Linked DNA regions of Homo sapiens. The protein of the gene in region 1 purifies or fractionates together with the protein of each later gene. This does not show direct contact. Each region holds a gene or a part of one and is shown on either strand. Other genes may lie near its edges.

What was found. The genes of interacting proteins can lie anywhere in the genome.
Region 2: the proteins of CCDC85A (region 1) and GRK6 purify together in Homo sapiens (affinity purification with mass spectrometry; one large-scale study listed by BioGRID and IntAct). This does not show direct contact.

The regions. Positions count from the first base shown.
Region 1 is NC_000002.12:56,340,089-56,345,431, reverse strand, and holds part of CCDC85A (coiled-coil domain-containing protein 85A), read right to left. Parts: intron 2,554-5,343; coding exon 2,477-2,553; intron 1-2,476. UniProt on the Homo sapiens protein: May play a role in cell-cell adhesion and epithelium development through its interaction with proteins of the beta-catenin family.
Region 2 is NC_000005.10:177,428,755-177,433,175, reverse strand, and holds part of GRK6 (G protein-coupled receptor kinase 6), read right to left. Parts: intron 2,305-4,421; coding exon 2,209-2,304; intron 1,466-2,208; exon of another isoform or gene 1,240-1,465; coding exon of another isoform or gene 1,182-1,239; coding exon 1,069-1,181; intron 944-1,068; coding exon 866-943; intron 471-865; coding exon 370-470; intron 30-369; coding exon 1-29.

The DNA of each region.
Region 1 (5,343 bases):
ATTACTTTGACAAGTAAATAACTAAATTACTTTGACAAATAAATAACTAAAACTAAAACATTGTTTTCCCATTTGTAACATCGCTGAAATCTGCAAGAATCTGGCATGGTATAACCGATACCATTTTTCTTTTGTAATGCTACATATCATGATGGTGCATCCCACATCAATAACATCTTAGCATCAATAAAACATGATCTTTCCTAGCCATTTCTTAGAGAGAAAAAAATGAAACAAAACAAAATGAACCAAAAAACCTTCCTTGGTAGCAAAATAGTAATGTATTTCAAAGGATATAACTGAACACTTTAAATTGAGTAGTTGTTTAATCTTGCTTAGTCTTAACTATGCAAGTACTATGTATTCCAATACACATAGACACATCAAGTATAGTTAAGGACTCTTCTGATTTTCCTTCAAGACTTCTAACACTCACTTTCACAGGTTTTTAAGAATCAGCCTTGTCATCATTTTCACATTTGTTGTGCCTCTTTTTTTTTTTGATAAGATGGCATACATGCTATTAGTTTGCTGTTTGATGTCAGCCTCAATTCCTTCTCAGAAGGAAACTAAGAACAAAAATCACTTGGATTTTTTTTCTATTTCTTTTACATTCCCAGTCGCCTGAGAGATGGCACAACCATGTATAATAAACTAACTAGATTTTGTAGGTTTCTTTGTAACAAGTAAGAAGTTAGATGTTTTCAGTCAAGGGCCTTAGGACAGTCATACTGTGAATTTAACATAAAAGGCAAAAAGGAACACAAAAAAATTTTAAAAGGAAAACAATGAAGAGCAAAGAGAAAACAAACCCACCAGTAGTATTTTATTTCATGACACAATCTCTTCTGTCATCATGAATTTTAACACATGTACAGTTTGAGAAGAGATAGAAGTACAGAATTCCACCCTTAGCCTCAGTTTCTGTTACTTGTAGTCAATCAGGGCCCAAAAATATTAAATGGAAAATTCCAGAAATAAACAAGTTTTAAATTGTGGGCCGTTTTGAGTAGTGTGAGGAAATCTCATGCTGTCCTGCTCCATCCCACCTGGGATGAATCCATGCTGTCTACACTTCCTGCCTGTTAGTCACTTAATGGCCATCTCGATGATCAGACCAATGGTCACAGCATCTCAGTGCTTGCGTTCAAGTAACCCTTATTGTATTTAATAGTACTTTACTAATAATAACTTTGTTATTAGTGTTGTTAATCTCTTACTGTGTCTAATTCATGAATTAAACTTTATCATATATATTTATGTATAGAAGAAAACATAGTATTGTAGGGTTTGGTACTATCCGTGGTTTCAGGCATCCACTTGGGGTCTTGGAATGTATTCCCCTTGAAAAGGGGGACAACTACTGTAGGTTTATTTCACTTAATCTCATGATTTCTGGGCAGACTGTTAGCCAATGGAAGAAAGAAAAAAGGATTCTTATGTGCAGTACCTGATAGCCCAAATCATCACTAATGAGCAAAAGTAGTTCAAAAACAAAACAAGATTAAAAAGACCTAAAATGTCTTTCTAAAGGGTCTTTGCATTAATGTTCAAATTTCTTCTCCTGAAATACCAACCTGAAGATTGGTTAGTCTTTGACCTTTTATTTAAACTACTGCTTACTAGTTGTTTGAGGTATAATTTTGCCTTAGTCATTTATGAAACAGAAATAATTACCAGAATGTAGAAAGAACCCTAGTGACTAATTTCTTGGAAAACTTCTTGTTATAAAACATTAAAATATATTATTGTCCACATGCTTGAAAAGGAAACCAACCTAGAATCATATTTGTTCAACTCCTCAACAAAACATTTTCTGAAAACCACCTCCTCAAAAGACCAGCATCATTCTCATCAAGTTAACAGCCCATGGAAAGAATTTTATAAGTGAAACGTATGGGAAGACATTAAACATCCTGGAAAAAGTGCCACTTTACTTTAATTAAGGGGAAAGAAATGAAGTCCCAAAGCAAAAACTGTCAATTGCTGTCATCACTTTGTTGCACTGAAAGAGTTCAATTATACCACAAAGAATTTTAGAATGTACTAATTTAATTATAATGCGAAACCTTCCAACTACCTATAGCTTTGCCTAGTTCAGAAATTAGCAAGTTTTCTATTTAAATAAGATTACCTTCCCTATATCCACCAACCACATGCATGGTGTATATGAGTAGTACTATCGACATGTCTTTATTTTCTACTTCTCATTATTTTATCCTTCTCCTTTGTTCTTCCTTTCAAAATTATTTCACATTCTCATTTCAGATATCTGCACCCTTTAGTATAACACTTAGAAATCTGGATAAGATGATGGCCATCATGGAACATAATCACACTCTACATTGATGAATGGCTATTTACAAAATGATTTCTATCATTTAAAAGACAAAACGTCATTGAGCTTTTAAATTCCAAATAAAATACTACAACTTAAATGGCACTGACTAGCTATGAGCTTCTGGAAGTCACCCACCTGGGGCAGCATGCGATTTTCTTCCTCCAGCTGTCTTACTCTTGCCTCCAGCTGCCTAACATAGGACAAGGTTGATTCTAAAATTAAAAAGAAAGAACTCACATTATACACACAGGTCTTGTTTGGTGTACTGTCAGGATATTTCTGGCTTGATTTATTCAAATCAGACAGTGACTATTTAGTCTGTTATTTAAAATGAGAAAAAAAAATATCTCCCAGAAAAATAAGAACAGAAGCCACTGAAACTAAAAACAGTTTTGAACAATTTTACAACGTTAAGAAATATTAGATAAGACACAGACTGGCATATTTACAGGTGGTAGTACACACAATTGACGATTAGTATTAAGATTCTATACAGAACTCTTACAAACCAATAAGAAAACACAAGTAAAGGTATGGAAAATATTTGTCAGAAGTGGAAACACACTAGACAAATAAACCTAAGAGAAGCAGTCCAACATCATTATTAATTAGTAAAATCACGCACACTTAGAACAGGGCAAAACCAGAACTCAAACCTGAATCTAATACCGAAATCCAGTCTCTCCACTACTCTAAGCCCTTTTAGCTATTTTTAATCACTAAGAATTGAGACATTTCAGAGGAAGACTTTTAAAAATATTTCTGAAGTTTGATCCTCTTAAGATGGAACAAATATTTTTCTGAAGTCAAATCGTTTTCCACAAATCTTTCTTAAATGTTTAGTATTTCCTGTTCTGCAATAAAGTGTATTGAGGTCAATTTAAAAAAAAAAAAGTATTAGAGAAAATTATAGGTGGTGAGACTGCAGGCTTTTTGCACACCAACCAGCCTCAGAATAATAGGCATCTTGAAGACAATTATACTCTTTTCTTCTGATTTTGTACATTTTGAGTTGTCAATGAGTTGTTCTACATATACAAGACTATTTTGTAATGTTAACTATAACCAAAATAAACTACAAAGCTACATTAAAAAAAAAAACAGAAAATAAAACAAAATTTTTCAAACATCCAGTTCTCTTTATTTCTCCCAATAAAAATTTCAAGACTTAAGAAAAATATTTGTTCTTTTCACAAACTTACAGACATTGACAGAAAAAACATGAAAGAGCTATTTAGAGTTAGAATGAATTTTGACTGATTTTGGCTGACTGTGACAGAGACCCAAGTTTTTCACACATCTTTAGGTAAACCAGGAGCAGACCTGAAATTGACTATTTTTTTCATTTCTTCACAAGCTCAGGCATGAGCTGAAAGCTCAGAATCATTATCATGCTTAGCTTCTGTTCCATACTGAACTCTAAAGTTTATGGCTTTATGTCAGGAAAAGGGGTCACAGGTGAAGAAAAGTAAAATTTTATTTCTGGGAACAATCTGATAGTAACTCTTCTTCATTAAAGTGAAAATATTCAAGATCATCACATAGTAGCAATTCATTCATCACACAACAACAAAATATTTCAGGTGCAGTGAAAGGTACACAGCAATAGACTTTCTCCAGAGCACACTTCTGTTACATTAGGTAGCTAGTCAAACATGAGCAAGGCAGGAGAGGGCTCCCCGCAAGCCCACCCACCAAGAATGTCAGGCAACCATCACGGGATAGTCAGGTGGTTGTTAACTGTCTCTCTAAAATAATAATTAGTTGCAGTCAACCCAATAGATAGAAAAAACCTGGTACTGTTGATTACCACTTCCCCAGTAAGATCTCTGGAGTTGGGCGAGTGGTCTCAAGCGTGTGTACTAAGAGGAAAAATAGCAGTTTAATTGGTATATGATCTTCCTCTGGAAATGCGAGACGGCTAAGGGAAGAATGCCTCAAGTGAGCGTGCATACATCTTCAGTAAACACACTGCACATGCTCCCCTCCCAAGAGCTAGCAGGCCACTGCACATGTGGACAGTTCATCTCAAGGGAAGAATCAGTGTAGAAGGGACATGAAACCCCAGAAGTACGCCAATGTATAAAACCCAAGTCAAAAGGTCAAACAGTGCACTTGATCTCTCAAGTCACCCACCTGACCCTGACTCTCTTCCAAATGTACTTTACTTCCTTTCATTCCTGCTCTAAAGCTTTTTTTTTTTTTTTTTTTTTTGAGATGGAGTTTCACTGTTGTTGCCCAGGCTGGAGTGCAGTGGCGCGATCTCGGCTCACCACAACCTCCGCCTCCCAGGTTCAAGCGATTCTCCTGCCTCAGCCTCCCTAGCAGTTGGGATTACAGGCATGTGCCACCACGCCTGGCTATTTTTTGTATTTTTAGTAGAGACAGGGTTTCTCCATGTTGGTCAGGCTGGTCTCGAACTCCCGACCTCAAAAGATCCTCCCGCCTCGGCCTCCCAAAGTGCTGGGATTACAGGCATGAGCTACCACGCACAGCCATTCTAAAGCTTTTTAATAAACTTTCACTACTGCTCTAAAACTTGCCTCGGCTTCTTCTTCTGCTTTATGCCCCTCAGTCGAATTAGGGGCAAGAACTGGGGCTGCTGCAGACTCATATGGTTTCGCTACTGGTAACACTTCCATAGTTAATATTGAAGCAGAACAACCTCCTCAGTGTTCATGTTCTTCAGCCTCAGACACACAAAAAGGGCAAGAGGCAATACGGTAGTGCACCTAAGTGTTTGGAGCCCCTAAGGATCCACAGTTAGGATGGATATTGATGCCCTGATCTGAATTTCATCATGGAAACACAATTATTTTATGTGGAAATAGTTTATATGAACCCAATTCTATTTTTATGACCTCTAAAGCAATGAGCTAACACTTTATTTTCTAAAATACATAAGCATCAGTCCTTAATTCACAAATACAACAATTAAGCTCATCTCTGACTAGCTTAGAGCAGGCCTGTTTTCCAAAATAGTGTGCAGAAAGCCCCCATCA
Region 2 (4,421 bases), on another chromosome or scaffold:
GGGCCACGCTCAGGTACTCGTGGGTCAGCCTGTTGAGGAAAGGCAGGCCCAGCTCACCCGCCAGCCCCTGACACCTCAGGCTCTTGGCTTGCTGGGCCAGGCCTCCCGTTCTGTACAGGCTTAGCCCACAGGTATCGTCGTCGGCCAGTCCTCCTGCTAACCCCTGAGCGGGGAGACACACAGCCTGTGCTGAAGCTGTGGGTGCTACTGAGAGGGGAGGCAGCCTGCTCAGGTCACACAGCAGGGGCAAGGCCAGGGCTGGGCAGCTGAGCTCCCTCACCAGCCACCGAGCTGTTCACAGTCTTCCTGGCCCCCAGAAGCCCCCTCCGCTGGGCATAATTCCAGGCTTGTGGGCAGGGACAGGCTTACCGGGTGAGTTCCTGGAAAAGGTCTTTGCAGGGACCCTGCTCCAGCCGCTGGGTGCAGTTCGTCACCAGCTGCCGGGGGACCTCAGGGATGAGGTCAGGACCCTGGGAACAAGCCCCAGACAGGTCAGTGCAGGGGCTCCCTTGGATGGCTGCCCACTTCCAGGGGAGAGGGGTCAGGCAACTCGGGCTGGTGCCATGAGAGGCTGCAGGCCAGGGTGTGCCAGCCAGCCTGGTTGCTGAAGTCCTTCCTGCTGCCCACCCATGAGGCAGAGCGCAGCAGAGCCACTGGGAGGCCGCCTGGCCCAAGCCCAGCCCATACCCTGGGCTGCATGCCCGCCGTGCTGCCTGGAGCAGCTCCAGGGCACTCTCTGTCCAGGCTGTGTGTTACATGTGTCTGTATGAAGAGACCACCCTCAGAAGCCTGACACTGTGGTCACTCCTGTGCCTGACACGGGGCTCTGGTGGCTCCCATCATCTCTCCATCGCTGCTCACTCACCGTGTGGCTCAGAAAATTCTGCGTTAGCTGCCGCCCACATGCCTTCCGCTTGTCATCCGGGGTCACTTCATACTCGGCCTGCAGGGTGGAAAGCAAAGAAGCTGGAGGTCTGGGCAGGGCAAGCAGCAGGTGTGGGGAGGAGGGGCACATGGGGCCAGGACCTCGGCCACCCGCGGGGCTGGGCAGGGCTGGGCTGCACTCACCACCCCATCCAGGAAGGCGACGCAGCGGCTCAGCTCCGGCCTCGTGGCACAGAACTCTCGGAACAGCAGGCGCCCAATGGGCTGCCGCTCGCACAGGCTGTGATAGTCACGCTCTGTTGGCAGTGATGGAAGCTGCTGGGTCCACAGCCCGAGAGCACATGGGTGGGGCATGTGCCCACACCACCAGGCCCTGGGCCCCCACAACAGCTTCCAGCTCTGCAGTGTGGTAGCCACAATCTTCTTCAGAACCCTCACCACAACCCTCAGGTGGGCACAGCTGTTTTGGGGCTGTGAGGCCCAGAGAGGCTAACTGACTAGCTCAGTGTCACACAGCCGGGAGTCTGGCTCCAGAGCCCAGGCCTCCATCCACCTCCCTGCATTGTCTCCTGATTTACACGACTTGCGTATGTCACGGTACTGGGGTTGGGTGCGGTCCGTGAGGTTCCGGCCCAGCCCAGCCGGGGCCAGGCCCACACCTGCTGCCTGCCTGGCGAAAGTGCGAGAGGAAGCTGTGGCTTCCGGCAGGCTCTCAGCTGGGCCTCCTTCCCAGGAGGTGGAAGCAGCCCGGGTGTGCTCTGCGCACGTGCAGGCCACCGGGGGCCTCAGCAACCTTGGGTGCTGCTCAGACCTGGGGCCTTGGCCAAGATTGGCAGGAACTGGGGTCCTGGGCCCTTCTGTCCCCTCCCAGGAGTAACCCTGTCACACTGCCCAGGCTGAGGGCTTCTGGTCAAGGATTTGCTGGGCACCCCTCAGGGCTGGGCCTGGGAGGCTACGCCCCAGCCTGGGGGTCCCAAGGCAGTCAGTCTGTGGGCTGGCCCAGCTGCTGCTCCCTCTGTCCTGTGGGCCCTGCTCACCCTAGCTGGCTCTCCTTTTCAAAGTGGAATCAACTGCCCCAATCTGCCCCTGCCCTATTCCCGACACCCGCTTCAACCACCCTCGGTGTGACCCTGTTTGCTGTCTGCTCTCCACCCGTCCCAAGCCCAGGAACTGAAACTGGGCTGAATGGTGCAGTCCTCATCCTCCTGCTCACTGGAGCCCCCAAGTCTGCCCCTCTGCTCCGGGGCAAGGTCTCAGGGGAGGCTCCCCCGGCCCCAGCAGGGCCCCTCGCCTCAGCACCCCCAGTCTCTGCCCAGGCCTCACCGAGGCTGAGCCGCAGCTCTTCGCACTGGCTGATGTGAGGGAACTGGAGCATCTGCCGCCATTTCTTGCTTTTGCCTTTGCGATTTCCACCGCCACCTGTGGGAGCAATAGGACACTGGGTCTCGAGTCCCACTGCCTCAGAACTGCCTCTGGGTCCTCAGTGCGGTCCACGGCCTCTAGGGCCCAGCCAAGGCAGAGCTGAGGCAGAACAGCACCTCAGGCCTTCCCTCTGCACGCTCCAGCACGCCCTTGCTGCGTTCCAGGACACACGTGCTTCTCCTGCTTCAGGCTCCTGCACTGGGAGAGCCAAGAGAGGCAGTGAGGTCGCTGCGGGAGGACAGTGTTCCAAGTAGCTCCAACAATGGGTCCAGCCCCAGTTGCTTCCCGCCAGGTAGGAGTTCCCCCGGTGAAGAAAGGGGAGAAGGACGTCACAGTGCTGAGAAGTGCAGAAGGCCCGGGAGGGAGAGATTCTAGGCCAGTGGGGCAGGCCTGAGAGACGCACAGGGCAGCATGGGGACAAGGAGGCTCCCAGGCCTCTATCACCAGGCCCCACATCAGAGATATCAGACGCTCAAATGAGGCAGGGGCAAGGGGGCTGGCACCCAGGACTCCCCGTCCCCTGCACACTGGGGCTTCCCCGGTCCCCTGCCTGTCTTGCTTGACCTCGCAGACACCCCATCTGCAGCAGCTGAGGTCACAGCAGCAGTTCGATTGCCTGCAGAGCCCAACAGGTGTGGGAAACGTGGGCCAGATGTGAGATGACCAGGAACAGCGAAGGCCTCTCTGACAGGGCCAGCTGCAGGAGAACGCCAGCTGATTGCTTGATTGCTGCTAGGAGGGTTTCTGGCTCAATGTGGCCAGCTCTTCTGATTTTTTCAAAAGCAGCCGGAATTGCAGACTCTAACATAAAATATTGGCCCCCATTTTGTTTAAAAAAAAAAAAAAACTCACTGCAGCCAAATAAAATGTGTCAGGGAGCTAGCCAAATGTGTGTGGCCTGTGGGCCACCAGGTTGAGGAGGGTGGAAGGGGCCTGAGCCTCCCAGAGCTGGGTCTGAATCTCTGATTCACACTGTGGCCCATCACTCGCTATCTGTGAACCTCAGCTTCTCCATGTGTGTTACGTAGTGAATGGGAGACACTGTCCACATCAAGTAGGGCTGAGTCAAGAGGTGAACCCCAACTCCAACAACGCCATGGCAACCTTAGACAACCACTTTCTCATGCTGGGCCTCAGTTTCCCCTCTGGCTTTCTAGTCCTGTATCCATCTGGCCTGGGTGAGGGCAGGTGGTACAAGGGCAGAAGTTGCCTTCTAGGGAGGGGGCAAGGCTAGGTCCCTAGATGACTCCCCGACCTAAGCTGCCTGGAGAAGGAAGTACTGCAGGGGCCCATTGAGAAACTTGCTAGAGGCCTCCTGCGAACATGCCCTGCAGTCATTGCTTCACTGTGAGTGAGCAACAGACACCCACCCCTCAACCCAGGGCAAGGCCTTCCCAGAAGGGGAACTCCTCCCCCACACCCACAGGTCCCTCACCCAACCCTCCATCCGCCAGCCTCCCACCCTCAGTTACTTCCTCCTCCCCCCTCCCAGCCACATCAAGGCAGCAGCAAAGAGTCACATGCAAATATCCTGTCCTGGGCTGCCCAGTCAGTGGAGCTCTTCCCCACCCTCCCTGTCCCCTTTCAGTGTCCCTGGGCCCCCTCCCCATGCCTCTGAGTGCCTGGGAAGAGAAGGGGTACTGAGGGAGGTCTCAAGCCCCAGCGTTGTCCCACTCCATCCTCACAGCAACTCTGCCAGAGCAGGCCCAATTTTATATGAAAACTGAGATTCTGAAGTGAGGAATCAATTCACCCAAGATGACCAAGCCCAGAGTATACCCAAGATGACCAAGCCCAGAGACCAATCCTGGGTACAGGATTCGTACCCAGCTCCCTATGGCCACAACCCAAGCTCCTTTCCCACCCCAAACATGGCTGGCATCTATTAGGTGCCAACTGTATACACACACCAAGGGTTCCCAAACCCCACCTGGGGCCTCAGATCACTTGAGAAGCCGTCAGGGGCCCCAGCCTCAAGCTCATGAAAAGCCAGTTCATGAGGTGGTTCTGATGCAGCCCGTCCAGGCGCCTGGGCTCAGGACTCAGTGACAATCAGGGTTTCCTTTAGTCTTTATGTCCCACCCCCAACCGTTCCACAAAAAGGGGTACTGAAG